Linked DNA regions of Homo sapiens: region 2 is linked to region 1. Evidence: fine-mapped QTL for protein levels in blood plasma. A gene starts in region 1. The other region holds a variant in brackets. All regions are shown on one strand. Distances are between the middles of the regions.

Region 1 (8,264 bases):
CACCTAGCAGAGAAACAGAGCCTGGGAGTGACCCCATAGCAGGACCCAGGGCCGTGCTCAACACCTCTGTGGGTAAGAGGGACCAGTGAAGCTGGGGCTCAAGGCAGGGCCCCCACCTGGGACATGAGAAGAAGTGGCATCTTAGGCCGTTTCACTAGGTACTTCCCACTGGCAAAGTTTTATTGCGGAATCTTTTCGACAGCCTGGCAGGGTCCTGCTATAATTGCTGTCATCTTCCACAGAGAAAGCTGGAGCCTAGAGAGGCTGTGAGGACACAAAACCACACAGAATGAAGAATGTCACACACAGAATGATGCACAGAACACGCACACACTACACACAAACCACACACACAGTAGCAGATGGCAAAACAACAAGAAAACTACATCCCCAGCCCACATCCTCCCTGAACTCCAGACTTCCCTCTCCTGAGCATACGACTGCCTAGGGCAATGCCAAAGGAGCAAGAGCCGCAAGAATGTCCTGGACTTGGCCGGGGAAGGACCTGAGCTGGTCCTGAATGCCCTTCCTGCGGTTTCAGCTTCTCCCAGGGCTCAGGCCCCGGCCTCGCAGTCCTCTCACCTTCTGGATCTGGCCTGGTGACTGTCCTACAGAAGGTGGTTCCCAGTAGAGGCTTAGGGCTGGTATGGGAGAGGCCTTATATAGCAGGTGGCTGTAAAATCAAAAAGCACAGCTGTCTTCTGGGGTGGGACCTCTGGGTCAGACAGGCTAAGGCTTCTGGCTCTCAGACTGTGCCCTGCCCAATAGAGCTACAGGCTGCCCAACCCTTTGGCATCTGTGCAGCTCGTGCCCTCTCTGAGACCTCTAGGAATTGGGAACAACTTTGGTCAAGGCCTGCCTTTGGCAAAATGTAAACAGGAGTAAGGTATCTTCCAGCATTGTCTGTGGCCTTCTAAGTCAATTCCATGACCTGCTAATGACAAGCACCTAACAACCTGCTAACAGTCACCATGATTAGCCCATTTATAGATGAGAAAACCAAAGCACAGAAAGAGAGCCATAAGAGATATGCTCATGGGCACACAGCCGGGGCACAGTCAGAACTCAGAGCTCCGAATCAGACTATGTGGGGTCTGTGCAACTCAGGAAAGGGCCTCAGTTTCCCACAGGCAAGTGTCTTAACCTTGTTAGATTTGAGGGTCCTCCAACCAAGATGAGTGTAAACTCACTGTGCAGCCTCATAGTGTGGTAGAGGGACCATGACGTGAAGCCCCTGCCTGCAGTGTGCTCTGCACACTGGGTGAGAGCCCACAGCAGCCATCGAGAGAGTCTTTCTGGCCAAGTGATCTGAGCAGCTACTGGTAACAGCCCAGGTCAGGTCAACTGAGGCCTCTCTGTATTAGTCAGGTTCTCTGTCCTCTAGAGAAGGTGAGTTTATATATGTATGAAGGGGAGTTCATTAAGGAGTATTGACTCACATGATCACAGGGTGAAGTCCCACAATAGGCTGTCTGTGACCTGAAGACCAAGGAAGCCAGTCTGAGTCCCAAAACCTCAAAAGTGCAGCCTTCAGTCTGTGGCTGATGGCCTGAGAGCCCCTGGCAAACCACTGGTGTAGGCCCAAGAGTCCCAAAGCCGAAGAACTTGGAGTCCGATGTTTGAGGGAAGGAAGCATCCAGCATGGGAGAAAGATGGAGACTGGGAGACTCAGCCAGTCTGGTCCTTCCTCGTTCTGCTGCCTGCTTTTATCCTAGCTGTGTTGGCAGTTGATTAGATGATGTCCACCCAGATGTAGGCTGGGAGGCTAGGCCAGTCTAGCCTTTTGACATTTTTCTGCCTGCTTTATATTCTAGCAGAGCTGGCAGCTGATCAGATGGTGCCCACCCAGACTGAGGGTGGCTCTGCCTCTGCCAGTCCACGGACTCGAGTGTTAATCTCCTTTGGCAACACCCTCACAGACACATCCAGGAACAATACTTTGCAATACTTTTCAATCCAATCATGTTGACACTCAATATTAACCCTCACACTCTCCCAGTCTCCTCACACTGTGCCATGGGTGCTCCTGGTTTTGAGTGTGGACTTGAGTTATCTTCCCTCCTCATCTTTCCACTGTGCTGACACTTTATACACACACGGTGGGGAGTGGGAGGAGCCCACTCAGCCGAGGATGCAGAGGTTGAGGGGCACACATCATACCAGTATCCCCCAGCCTGCATTTAAACCTTGCAGTTCCCTGCTCTTGAAAATACCCCTTGGGGATGGCTACGCTACCTGTGTCTCAGCTCTCTCTTCCTTCCCCAAACTCATGCATTCATTCAACAAACATTTTTTGAGCACCCTCCCTGTCTTAGGCCTACTGTAGGAAACCGGGAGGTATTTGTGAGCAAAAAGACAAAGACCTTTGCCCTCCTGGAGTGTAGTCTAGAGAGGACTACAGACAACATAAATTAAAGTGGTAAATAAGCAAATCACAGGGAAAGTCAGAATGTGGTGACTGCTCTGGCAAAAAGACAAAGAGTAGGATAAGTCATCAACCATGCTAGGGGGTGAGCAGGTGCAGGCTTCCACTTTCAATGAGGAGGTTGTAGTAGGTCTCATGGAGAAGACAAAATCTGAGTTATTTTTATAAGCAGAGACTCTGGCCATCTCTTATTCTCTCCTCTCCTCACCATCTGCCTTCAGGCTGCTTATCACAGCATTTTCCTAAAAAAAAAAAAAAGCAGCTTCCTCCCTAACAGAACCATATTGTTTCCCAGCACACATTAGTCAGTCACCTGGCAGGGCACAACAAGAGAAGTGGCACAGTAATATCCAATGGGGTGTGTGTGGGCTTGCGGGTTTCAGGAATGTGGCCTCCCTGAGCCACCGATGGAGGATCCAAAGAGCTCATGAACACTGCCTCTGAGATAACAGCTCTGGTGTCAGGCTGAGTACTGGCATGAGAAAATCGGGCTGATCAATGTTAATTCCTCTCAGAAGGCACCAGATACTCAGGCAAATGGACCCAAAGCGACCACAAAGATCTGAGTCTGAATCCAGACTTTGTCCCTCACATCACATAAGTTACTTATTAACCGCACTTGTTGGGCCAGAGCTCTTTGTCTTTAAAATGGAATCATCAGGCCCTGAAGAAATGCCTCCTGATGATTTATTTACTCCTGGAATCATCACCCCATTCCTCTGTGTTTTTCCAAGGCCATCTATCTATCAATAATGTCCTGAGGACGTCTAACCATGTGGGAATTATTATTAATAGCACGTATGATTTTAACTGAGCCATTTATCAGTAAGGACACTGAAGACAATGGAAGCCCCCTGAACTAGGCTGCGCAGTCTATACGGCTGCTCACAGCAGTCCTGGGTTCATCCTTTTGAAGCCCCGGCAGTGCGCCAAGGGTACCCCCAGCTGCCTTGACAGATAAGGAAACAGGCCCAGGGAGGCCTTCCCTATAGGCCTTCAGACGCCTGGGCCAGCAATCTTTCCATTTCAACATGGCTCAGGTGGGACGCAGCCTCCACCCGCAGGATTGGAGACATCGACTTGACTCCACTCCTCCCTCTCCCAGAGGTTCACCTCTCTGTCATTAATGTGGGGTCCAAGGACCTGAATCAGTCACAGGGAATTATGAAAAAGCACCTCTCTAAAGCCGACTCCTCCTGACTAGCAAAGAAGTCCAGAGACCCAGGAGAAGCTAAGTCGCAACAAGCAGCCCAACTTTTAAACTAAGAAGCCCTGGGCACACCGTAGGCACCCTAGTTCCATCATCTTCTTAGAAGGGGACAAGGTTGGCTGTCCCTACAGCCTGCTGAGCTGAGGCAAACCTGGAGCTCAGCTGAGTCCCAGTGAGTCATCCGGTGGTAAATCTGGAACCACTTTAGGAAACGGCCTTTTCCCAAAGCTTCCCTTGATGACCAGCAAAGCTTGGAGGTGAGTTTCCAGGGGAGCCTACCCCATTTTGGAATAAGCATGTGGAGGTGTGTAGGGTCAGGTCAGGGAAGCTGGGGCAGGAATTATATCCAACAGGAGTCTAAGCCAAAGACTCAGCAAAAGGATCAAGAGCATCCACCCCTGACCCGCCTTCTCTCTGTGTTTGCTTCTGGGAGCCTTTCATTGACTAGCTCATTCCTCCCGCTTGGAGATGTGAGAATAGGCTAAAAATAATGAATTATTGCCCCCAACATTCCTGCCCCCCAGTCACCTTGCAGAGGAAATGAGCATATCCTGGAAGATAAACTTCCCCAATAGTCCATGGCCTTATGTAAGATGATGATCCCCCCGAGTCTTGGGTTTCCCATCTTTCAAGTGGCAAAAACAGCACTACGGCCTGAGTAGCTATTCTGAGGGTCAAAGGAGGTCGCACAAGCCGACAATGATGATGAAACTATCACTTCATAAAGGGCTCTAAAAACAATGGCTACTACTGCTATCATTGTTCTCTGAGCTCATATCGGCAACTGCACAGCCCAGAGGGACATTCGCATCTGCACAGGGCAATGGTCTGAGGTGAGGTCCAGCCTCAGAACACACTTCTACCACAATTAGATACTACTTCATGCCCACTAACACAAATAAAATCAAAAAGAAAGAAAGAAAAAGAGACAGAGAAAGAAAGAAAGAAAGAAAGAGAAGGAAGCAAGGAAAATTGCGAGCATTAGGAAGGATATGGAGAAATTGGAACCTTCATACACTACTGGTAGGAATGTAAAATGGTGCAGCCACTGTGGAAAGAGTTTGGCAGTTCCTCTAAGAGAGTTACCCATGACACAGCAATTCCACACCTAGGTATATACCCAATATAATTGAATGAAAACAACTGTTTATACAAAAACTTGTACATGAATAATCATAGCAGTATTATTAGACTTAATTTACGAGTATATATATATATATATGTGAAAGTTACGGGTGCAACTTTATACCATAACTTTCTTCACATCTCTCTTCCCCACTTCTGGTTTCTTTTTGCCTTTTCAAGTAAATGATTTTAAAATGGCTTCCAAATTACACAAAATTATTTTTTATAAAATGCAATTTACAGAATTATATATTAATTAGAATTTTTATTTCTAGTAATCTTAAATTTTAGTGAAAATGGGAAGCAAGAAATCTGAACTGTATGTCAGATGTTAGCATTTTATAGATAAAATTATTTCACTATTTCAGAACCATGTTTTCTCATATAATAATTATTTACATTGGAAATGACCCAGACATTCAATAAGCATTTGTTATTTAATTTAAAATAATGTTAAGATTTTACATTACACAAAAAGTCCACTTATAGGTATTTATCTCATGTATATGTATTTAATTAATTTATTTTTTAACAATTTAGATTACTCTTGAAAACCAAGGTATTATATAAAGTTAGTCATTATTTAAAGTTATTTCCCTAATAACCACAGAGGTCAATATAAAATTTATTTAGACAGAAATGTATGCTGATGACTCTAAAGACATTTTTATTATTTTACTAATAATTTTTGAAGCCAGTTTTATTTGTCAAAGATTCACATGAACTTGAAAACCATTTAGACTTAATTTGTGAGTACTTGTTTACTTATATGCCAATTTGGTAGCAAGATAGGTGAAACGAAAAGCTGGTTCTTTGAAAAGATAAATGAAATTGATAGACCACCAGTGAGACTAACCAAAAAAAGAAAAGAGGGGATCTAAATCAGCTCAATTAGAACAAAACAGGAGATATCACAACCGACACCACAGAAATACAAAAGACCATTCAAGGCTACTATGAACATCTTTACATGCATAAACTAGAAAACCTAGAGGAGATAAATAAATTCCTGGAAATATACAACCCTCCTAGATTAAACCAGAAAGAAAGAAAATATTTGAACAGACCAATAACAAGCAGAGAGATTGAAATGGTAAATTTTTTAAAAAGTTGCCAATAAAAAGAAGTCCAGGACCAGACAAACTCACAGCTAAATGCTATCAGACATTAAAAGAAGAGGTAGGCACAGTGGCTCATGCCTGTAATCCCAGCACTTTGGGAGGCCGAGGTGGGCGGATCACTTGAGGCCAGGAGTTCAAGACCAGCCTGGCCAACATGGTGAAACCCCATCTCTACTAAAAGTACAAAAATTAGCCAGGCATGATAGCGCACACCTGTAATTCCAGCTACTAGGGAGGCTGAGGCAAGAGAATTGCTTGAACCCAGGGGGTGGAGGTTGCAGTGAGCCAAGATCACGCCACTGCACTCCAGCCTGGGTGACAGAGCAAGACGCCCTCTCAAATAAATAAATAAATAATTGGTACCAATCTTATTGACACTATTACAAAAAGTAGAGAAAGACGGAATCCTCCCTAAATCATTCTATGAATCCAGTATCACCCTAATACCAAAACCAGTAAAGGATGTAACCGAAAAAGAAAACTACAGACCAATATCCCTGATGAATATAAATGCAAAAATCCTCAACAAAATACTAGCTAAGCAAATCCAACAGCAAATCAAAAAGATAATCCATCATGATCAAGTGGGTTCCATACCATGGATGCAGGGATGGTTTAACATATGTAAGTCGACTACCGAGCCAAGATGGCCGAATAGGAACAGCTCCGGTCTACAGCTCCCAGCGTGAGCGACACAGAAGACGGGTGATTTCTGCATTTCCATCTGAGGTACCGGGTTCATCTCACTAGGGAGTGCCAGACAGTGGGCGCAGGACAGTGGGTGCAGCGCACCATGCGTGAGCCGAAGCAGGGCGAGGCATTGCCTCACTCGGGAAGCACAAGGGATCAGGGAGTTCCCTTTCCTGGTCAAGGAAAGGGATGACAGACGGCACCTGGAAAATCGGGCCACTCCCACCCGAATACTGCGCTTTTCTGACAGGCTTAGGAAATGGTGCACCAGGAGATTATATCCCGCACCTGGCTCAGAGGGTCCTACGCCCACAGAGTCTCACTGATTGCTAGCACAGCAGTCTGAGATCAAACTGCAAGGTGGCAGCAAGGCTGGGGGAGGGGCGCCCACCATTGCCCAGGCTTGCTTAGATAAAGAAAGCAGCCGGAAGCTCGAACTGTGTGGAGCCCACCACAGCTCAAGGAGGCCTGCCTGCCTCTGTAGGCTCCACCTCTGGGGGCAGGGCACAGACAAACAAAAAGACAGCAGTAACCTCTGCAGGCTTAAATGTCCCTGTCTGACAGCTTTGAGGAGAGCAGTGGTTCTCCCAGCACACAGCTGGAGATCTGAGAACGGGCAGACTGCCTCCTCAAGTGGGTCCCTGACCCCTGACCCTTGAGCAGCCTAACTGGGAGGCACCCCTCAGTGGGGGCAGACTGACACCTCACACGGCCGGGTACTCCTCTGAGACAAAACTTCCCGAGGAACGATCAGACAGCAGCATTCACGGATCACGAAAATCCGCGGTTCTGCAGACACCGCTGCTGATACCCAGGCAAACAGGGTCTGGAGTGGACCTCTAGCAAACTCCAACAGACCTGCAGCTGAGGGTCCTGTCTGTTAGAAGGAAAACTAACAAACAGAAAGGAAATCCACACCAAAAACCCATCTGTACATCACCATCATCAAAGACCAAAAGTAGATAAAACCACAAAGATGGGGAAAAAACAGAGCAGAAAAACTGGAAACTCTAAAAAGCAGAGCACCTCTCCTCCTCCAAAGGAACGCAGTTCCTCACCAGCAATGGAACAAAGCTGGACGGAGAATGACTTTGACGAGTTGAGAGAAGAAGGCTTCAGACAATCAAATTACTCCGAGCTACAGGAGGAAATTCAAACCAAAGGCAAAGAAGTTGAAAACTTTGAAAAAAATTTAGACAAATGTATAACTAGAATAACCAATACAGAGAAGTCCTTAAAGGAGCTGATGGAGCTGAAAGCCAAGGCTTGAGAACTACGTGAAGAATGCAGAAGCCTCAGGAGCCGATGCGATCAACTGGGAGAAAGGATATCAGTGATGGAAGATGAAATGAATGAAATGAAGTGAGAAAGGAAGTTTAGAGAAAAAAGAATAAAAAGAAATGAACAAAGCCTCCAAGAAATATGGGACTATGTGAAAAGACCAAATCTACGTCTGATTAGTGTACCTGAAAGTGACGGGGAGAATGGAACCAAGTTGGAAAACACTATGCAGGTTATTATCCAGGAGAACTTCCCCAATCTAGCAAAGCAGGCCAACATTCAGATTCAGGAAATACAGAGAATGCCACAAAGATACTCCTCGAGAAGAGCAACTCCAAGACACATAATTGTCAGATTCACCAAAGTTGTAATGCAGGAAAAAATGTTAAGGGCAGCCAGAGAGAAAGGTCGG
Region 2 (8,403 bases), 49 kb after region 1:
TCCCTCCAGCGTGTATTTTCACGTCTCTCCTCGTCTCTGCTGCTTCACTTTTGTCACTTTCTCCAAGTCTTTTGGGTTTGTCTAGCTGCAGATGTTTTCTCTCATCCTCATCATTTATGCTTCCAGATCAGTTTTCCTGTCATTCTTATTCAGCTTTTATCTCTGTCACATTCTCTCTGAAAGTGTCGTTAAATATATATACATATGTATGTATATACATTTTTTTTTTTGAGACGGAGTCTCACTCTGTCACCCAGGCTGGAGTGCAGTGGCGCGATCTCAGCTCACTGCAAGCTCCGCCTCCCAGGTTCACGCCATTCTCCTCCCTCAGCCTCCTGAGTAGCTGGGGCTACAGGTGGACGCCACCAAGCCCGGCTAATTTCTTGTATTTTAGTGGAGAAGGGGTTTCGCCATGTTGCCCAGGCTGGTTGCCAACTCCTGAGCTCAGGTAATCCGCCCGCCTCAGCCTCCCAAAGTGCTGGGATTACAGGCGTGAGCCACCGTGCCCGGCCCTAAATATATTTTTAACCAACCCAGAAAAAATTAAAAAGTATATCCCAGGTGGCAGGTGAACTAAATACCTGGTTCACTTTATTTAACCTCGGGTTTGTTTTTGTTAGTGTTATGAAGACGTAGCTCCCCTCCTCCTAAGGCCTCATGCCCTTTTCTGTTAACAGTCCCTTCCAATGGGGCAGCCATGGTCACTATTGCCAGATGCAACTGTTTGAGGGAATGGAGAGGATTGTAATCTGAGGCTTCTGAAATTGTAAAGTGAAAGAGGAGATCTGGTAAAAGGGGCGAAGATCAGCTGAAGGAAGGTCAGATGTGAGTACAGCAGCAACGGTTACATTCCCACCCTGGGCTGCAGAGGCAGGTGGGCTGCAGAGGCAGGTGGGCTCCTGGCCTCTCTCTCCAAGTGGAGTGGGAGGCTGAAACCATAGCAACACTGAGGTTAGCACACAAGGCAGGTGACATTAAGCAACATCCTCTCCTTCTTCCCTAAACCACAGCAGCCCCTGCGAACCTGTACAGCTCCATGAGCCTCCTCCAGCCTTCACTGCTGCCCCAGGCCCCCAGGCCCTTAAGAATTCCTGCTGGAAAAAAGCAGGCCGTGGCACAACTGAGATTTCCTTGTGTCAGTGTGAAGATGATCCAGCTCTTCTGCATGTTATTGCAGAAATCATAGAGACGAAACAGGATGGGGTGGCCTGGAAGGAGCATGGAAGATGAAGCCGCAGCTGAGGAAGAAGGCAGCTCTGCTGCTCCACTCTACCCTAGACCAAGAAGGTTCCTCTTTTCTAAATGGGGAAGAAACTCATTTTGACACTCCCTTCCTCCTATGTTTGAATAAATCAAGAAGCGTATCTGCACTGTGCAGTGAAAGCCACCTGCCTGCCTGGAGAAAGAGAAACTACTGCCCAGCACTCTGAGCTCTTCGACCTCTGGACGATGATCATCTCACACCCAAGCAGAAATATCCAGCAGCCCTCTGCTCCCTCCGGGCTGGGTCCTAACCAACTCTGGACTTGCTCAGGTTTCTCATGCTCCAACCCCTAACCCTGTCTGCAAACACATGCACCATTTCACATCATCCATCAGAACTCTTCGCATGGCCCAGCCTCCACTGCCAGCTGTATAATTTTAGTGCTTTAGATAACCTTAGAGGTTATCTACTGAGTCTGTCCACACTTCCGGCAGATTGGAACACTGAGGCCCAGAGGAGCTGAGTGAATTGTCCCTGTGCACATAACCCCTTGTGGCAGGGGCAGGCCAAGGGCAACCCTCTCTGAATAGTGTGGTCAGTGTTTTTAACACCGAAGCTCTCAAAAGAACTAATGTTTACTGAGCACCTAGAATGAGGGTGACCATATGTCCTAGATCACCCAAGTCAGTCCCAGGCCACACCTGCCCCCTTTCACACTCAGCTGTCCCAATTTAGACTATGCATCACGTATGGTCCCTGTACATATGTCTATTGTGTTATGTGTTGAGTGAGATGGAGTCAAGGATGATACTGACCCCTTCTTCTGAGGACTTAGGACCAACAAGAGACATGTCTACAACAACCGGCCCATTCTTCAGTAAGTCAAAAGAGCCATGGGGAACTTGAGAGTGATAAGGATTAATTCAGACTGGGCTAGAGAGGTGCCTGTGGTTGAATCCCAGCTCATGTGGACTTTTGACCACATGATCTGGTCCTCAAACCACAGGCAGCAGTTTGACAGTTTGAGAAGGGAGGAAACTTGTGCCAAGGGTAGCACAAGCAGAAGTAAGTCAGTAGACAGCTGTTTGGTGAAAATTTCCACATTCCAGGTCCTGAGAACACCAAGATGGGTGAGACACAGGCCCTGGGAGCTCAAGACAGATTTGGGAAGAGTGAGGATTGGGAGCCAGGCACCACTTCTCCAGTCTGAGACCAAGGGGCTGGTTCAGAGCTTCGGAGAGCAATGCCCAGCTGTAACCTCCCAGATTTTTCCTTGACTGCAGCCCTCATTAGTTATTTATTTACTTATTTTTAGAAATAGGTTGTCCCTCTGTCACCCATTCTGAAATAGTGGTGTGATCATAGCTCACTGCAGCCTCAAACTCCTGGGCTCAGGAGATCCTCCCACTAGCCTCAGGAGTAGCTAGGACTACAGGTGCATGCCATCACGCATTGCTAATTTTTTTACTTTTTGTAGAGTCGGGTTCTCACTATGATGCTGAGGCTGGCCTCAAACTTGGTCCTCAAGTGAGCCTCCCACCTTGGCCTTCCAAAGCATTGGGATTACAGCTGTGAGCCATTGCTCCTGGCCTGGTTATGTATTTTTCACTGCCCTGCACCACCTGTGCACACCTGCATTCCTTACCTGGAAGACCCACCCATGGCATTACAGTTTATAGTGTTCCTAACAAGGCCTACCACAGTGTTTGTACACTGAAAGATCCTGGTGAACATTTCTTAGTAAACTACACATATCCATTTGCCAGCCAGTGTATGGTCTCCTGGTTCCCTTATCCCAGGGCATGAGCAATGTGTTGCAGCCTGGGGCTCAGGAATGGTGAGCAGGCGTGGGTGGAGAAATTTATAAAGAGGCTGTGGAAAGGGAGAGGGAAAAGACACTAGGGAGGCCAAGGAAGGAGGTGAGCTCTGAGGAGAACAGGGTACATCTACATATCGAACATCTTACCTCCTGAGACCAGCTGCGCTGCAGACTTGAGCCAGCTCTCACACGCAATAGGTGATTCCGAGGACACACGGGAATGCAAGAGGCCCATGACAAGTACAAATAGGGTTCCATTCTGATGTATACACACCCCCACCCTTCTATGTGCAGTTTTTCAGGCCCTTCTGCAAAGTGCCCATGAGGCTGACCACGCAGGCTTGGAGGGTCAACAC[G/A]CAGTGCGCGCAGGGAAATGCAGAGCCCAGGCTCTGCGCACTTTCTGGTAGCTGCTGCCCCCTGCTGACACAGCAAGACCTTGACAGCCCAAGAAGGTCATCTCCGCTCTTCCTGCCAGGCAGAGTAGGAGCATCTACAGATGGGTTGATTCCACACCCCACAAATACGTACAATTACAATATGTCAATTTTAAAAGATGTCTAAAGGCTGGAAGCATAACCAGGCATGGTGGCTCATGCCTGTAATCCCAGCAATTTGGGAGGCCGAGGTAGGGGGATCGTTTGAGCCCAGGAGTTTAAGACCACCCTGGGCAACACAGGGAAACCCCGCCTCCAAAATAATCCAAAAATTAGCTGGGCATGGTGGGACACACCTGTAGTCCCAGCTACTTGGTAGGCTGAGGTGGGAGGATCTCTTGAGCCGAGAAGGTCGAGGTTGCAGTGAGCCAAGATCACATCACTGCACTCCAGCCTGGGCTAGAACGAGTGTCACAAAAACAAACAAAAAAAAAGGCAAAGAGCAGTGGTTCAAGCCTGTAATCCCAGCACTTTAGGTCAAGGAGGGAGGACTGCTTAAGTCCAAGAGTTCAAAACCATTTTGGGCAACACTGCAATACATCTCTACAGAGAAAAAAAAAATTAAGTTAAAAATTAGCGGGGTATGGTGGTGTGCATCTGTGGTCGTAGCTACTAGGGAAGCTGAGACAGAAAGATTGCTCGAGCCCAGGAGTCCCACGCCGCAGTGAGTTATGATTGCACCACTGCACTCCAGTCTGAGCAACAGCGCAAAACCCTGTCTCATAATAAAATAAATATTAAAAATTAAATTTTTAAAAAGGCAGTGGGGTTGTCATGCTTGTCAAAAATCATATCCAGATGAGGAGGGAAACACAACCCTTTCATAGAGTCCACTTGCCTAGCGCAAGATGGGATGAAGCCTCCGTGAGTTAAGCACTCCGAGGCTGTGAAGAGGTGCTAACAGGAATCGCTGCACCTCAGATCCACTGATGTAGCAGCATGCCACACATGCCTCTATGCTCCCATTTTATAGGCGATAAAATTGAAGCGTCATGAAATTTGAGAATTCCCATAGAGATGTGATCCTGGGATTGTGCATCACCAGGTCCTGACCTCCAAACTGCTGTACTGATAAACCCACCTGATACAGCTGTGGGCTAAGAGAAGGGGCAAGAAGCAAAAGCACATTTCCTGAGCATCTGTTGGTGAGAGCCTGTGTCAGGTGTTGGGTAGACTGAGGCCCCAGCCCCACACTTGAGGAAGATGAAGATCAGAACAATTCATTACCAACAGGCCAATGTAACATGTAACATGACACAGTACAGGAATGGGGGATGGGGCCCTATGTCCCCCACACCTTGACCATCTCTTCCTCACCTTAAACAAAATTTCTCGACCCTCTTTGCTGGGAGAAGGAGCTAAGAAACAGTATTCCCACTTCTCATCTCTTCTTCCCAGCAAAACTTCCTCGGAGATGACTACCTCCACTTCCTCACCTCCTGTTCCTGTGAGCCCAGTGGTTCAAGCGTTTGGACTCTAGAGTCCAAGTGCCTAGTGGGAGCCGCCTCCGTTACCTTCAGCAAGGCTGAGTACCCCCCATTGTGCCTTATTTTCTTACCGTGGAAAGGAAATCATAGTGTTTATCTGTCCTATAACATTGTTGTAGAGATTAATTAGGGGCGTTCCTGGTACGTGAAATGCACTGGATGAGTACAAGTTACTACAACGAGGGTGGGAGGGAGGGAGCTCTTCGGCTTCTGTCTTCTTCTCCTTAGAAGTACCATTGGCTCTAACCTTCCTGGTCTCTCTTCCCGCCTGCCGCATCTTCTAGGTGATTTTGCAAGGAGAAACGCACGTGCATGGCATAGCCCTTCTTTTCTAGGGCTCTTCTGTACCAGGAGCCTCACAGGTCCTGCCTGCCAGTGACTGGGTAGGGAAGTCCAGCACTGTGTGTCATCTCAGAAAGCCCTTCATTAGGACTATAATACTGTATTATAGACTGAAAATTTGCTGAGAGTAGATTTTAGGCGGTTTCACAACAAAAAAGGGGGGAGGTAACTGCAAAATGATAGGCCAATTTGATACCTATTTCATTATGTGCATCAAAATACCATGTTGTTCACCTCCTATACATACAATTTAAAAAATTTAAAAAGCCCACTCACCCAAAAACATATGCTATGCATTTTCATAGCAGCTTTTCTAGTAATAAAATATTATGACACCCATCTGCCAAGTCAGGGAAGGCAATCTCAAACTCCTGGACAGCACCCATCCAAAGGCACAGTGAGTGCTCAGCACATAGCGGCCCCAGATGGCCCCTCAGATGGCGTCCACAGCCACCAGGGTCACTGCTCTGATTGCGTGCCTCCAATTCTTGGCCTTCACCCTGCCCCTTGACCCCAAGGTTTCTGGTCTTCCTCCCTGCCAGCACCTTCTTCTTCCCTTGGCTGACCTCTTCTCAACAAAACTCCAAATACTGGTACACTCCAAGTGCAGCTCAGGCTAAACAAAGCCTTTTGCTCTTCTTCAAAGCTCCTGGAGTTCACATCCCTATCCAATCTCCCACCTGTGAGTTCAAGTGCCCTCAAACCCCTCCCATCCCCCAGCCAGTCAAGCCCTGACTTGGAAGTCACCTTTTATCTAGGTTTTAATTTCAGAGAAACAACGGATAATTCATAATGTAAGTACATCCTAAACACTGCAGCAGACAAAAATACTGCCTATCTGAAATTTCAGTGGGTTCACTGTATTGATAAATCTGGCATCACTACTTGTGTCCCTTCTCTACATTCATGCTCACATCCAGACACATCTAAGATCCCAACCCTCTGGCACTCTCATCTCTTAGCTCAGACAGAGCCCACTCCACCCCGCAGGCCCCTTTCTACCAAACCCTCTCCTGGCACCCATCACCTCACACAGCATGGCCCCATGAGGCACCAACTCCTCCCCTGCTTCTCTACACTTGCCCTGTACATGACCACCCTGGCCATGGGGCCTTCCACCCCCGCAAGAGCATGCATAGCGCAGCTCACTCAATCTGGTCCTTCACCTCCCTTCCCTGACCACACCATCTAAAAAGCCTGCCGCCTAACCCTGCTCTTCCCTTGCCCAACCCTTGCCTCATCTTTGCCCCTTTTCTCTTCCTCCAGCAAGGACAGTAGATGTTAACTGTTACATAAACTACTTTATTTAAATAAAACCAGGAAAGACCCTTTCCCCCTTACACACCAGCACATGCACACACGCACACCCACACCCTCCCTCCCTTTCGGCTGTCTGCCCATGGCCACCTCAAACCCCGAGGTTCTCATTGTGACCAACCTCCCTCAACCTGTAGACCCCCGTGCAGAGTCCAGTTGCCCACGCATCCCGGTTGCTGGCAGAACATGGGCCTAGAAAAGAGCACTCCATCTTCCTGGGGTGGGTCAAAAGGAAGGACTGGTTCTCCCAAGGCACCCAGATCTGGTGTGGCTTCCCTACAAACTGGGAGCACTGCCAGGCAGCTGGAGCTGCTCCCTGCGGAGGGCAGAACTTTTCACCCCAAGCCAACCCCTCCCTGTAACAAAGGAAGTAAGAGGGTTGGCAGCCAAGCTTCAGTGTGCCCCGAGGGATCCTGCAGTAGGTATTTTCAGTTTGGGGAAGAGCAAGGGAGAGCAATTGAGCACCAAATTCCCTAACCCCGTCCTGCAGGAGGGTGCTGAGTCAGTTCAGCATCCTCTACCCAGAAAAAGTAAACACAACTGTGCAGCAAGAGTGAGGGTGGGAATGACAGGGGCCTAAGCCTTCAGGACCTCATGACTTCACCCCCAACATGGGCCCTCTTAGGGACCCACTAGCACCTTGGCAATGTTGAGGACCCAGCCCAGCGGAAACACCATACCCACAGGAGCCAGTCTGGAGTTGGTGATGCTCCCTATGTTGACAGTGGGGTTGGGTTTCTCTCCCTGACACCAGCTTCCTGCAGGCCCTGTAAGTTCTGCTTTGGGGCACACATCGCAGAGTGCCTCAGGTCATGAAAGGGAATGCTGAAGGGAAAGGTGGTGTCTTCCGGAGGCACACAGTACATCTTACAGGTTACACACGGGCAGGCTGGAGCAGGACGGGGGGCAGGGCTCAGCAGCATACCTAGGGTACCCTCCAGAGTTGCCTTGGGAAGGGGGGCGGGGCTGGAAACCAACGGGAGGGGTGACTGTCCATCCCCTCCGACGGGAGTACTCAGGCCCAGCACCCATTTTCTCTGATGAGCTTCCCAGTGCCTTCTAGACCAAGTTCCCTGAGGGAAAAAGCCAAACAGATGGAAAGAGAGGGAGCAGAAAGGGAAAGCAAAGGGTCAATGCCCTGCAGATCGTGATGAGCTGGCAGGCAGAGGCAGACAGAGCGCCGAGGGCGAGCCTTCTGAATGGGTAAGGCAAAGAGAGCCGCCTGCTGAGGGGAAGGGGGAGGCTGTGAGAACGCCAGGGCAGGCACAGAGGACTCGAACACAGCTGGCCTCTCCCAGGGAAGCACTGGAGAAGGGGACCTTCGGGAAGACGAGGCCCCAGAGGAGAGGGCGTGAGAAGACTGTGGGCCCCAACCGGCCCGTGGTGGCAGATTCAAGCCAGGAACCCTGGCCCCTCGGCTACAGGCTGACGCTGCGCTGGTGCCGACCCCCACGGGCTCCGCCGTCGCTGCCCCGGCGCCCTCCACTCCGCGTTCCCAGCTCTTGGCCGTCCAGACTGACGTGGTCCGAGAGGCCTCGCAAGTGCTCCACGGAGTCGCACTTCTGCAGGTCTGAAGCCACCGTGCGCAGGCTCAGCAGACTCAGGGTATCGGTGTCGGGGGCGGGGCCGGGCCCCAGGCTGCTGCCCTCCTCCAGCCCCGCACCCTCGGCCCCCTCAATCCCGCTGTCTCCGTCCTCCATGTCCTCGGGTCCTGCCTCGGCCCCCACGGGGGAGGAGCGCCGAGGGCCCAGGGGGTGGGGAGGCAGACCCCCGCGGCGCCGTGCGTGAATCTGCTCGCTG

Alleles and levels. Positions count from the first base shown, and alleles are read on the strand shown. Strength reflects both the effect of a copy and how common the allele is.
In carriers of allele A in region 2, the plasma level of the protein whose gene starts at base 637 in region 1 tends to be lower than with G alone (moderate association).

The links. PIP is the posterior inclusion probability: the model's chance that the variant is causal. The UK Biobank Pharma Proteomics Project read protein levels with antibody pairs (Olink). The fine-mapping took linkage between variants from a reference panel, not from the people measured, so its PIPs are less certain.
Region 2: its variant is fine-mapped to the plasma level of the LYPD8 protein (UK Biobank, PIP above 0.99).

What each region holds. Positions count from the first base shown.
Region 1 is chr1:248,755,123-248,763,386 of GRCh38, forward strand. LYPD8 (LY6/PLAUR domain containing 8) reads right to left here and starts at 637. Exons shown (of 7, transcript NM_001085474.2): 1 at 583-637; 2 at 117-264.
Region 2 is chr1:248,803,879-248,812,281 of GRCh38, forward strand. SH3BP5L (SH3 binding domain protein 5 like) reads right to left here. Exons shown (of 7, transcript NM_030645.3): 7 at 6,568-8,403. The coding sequence ends at 8,022. It overlaps LOC124904577 (a long non-coding RNA gene), which reads right to left and starts at 3,640. Exons shown (of 2, transcript XR_007067008.1): 1 at 3,171-3,640. RefSeq lists an enhancer at 1,375-1,584. The variant G/A (reference allele first, on the strand shown) is at 3,380.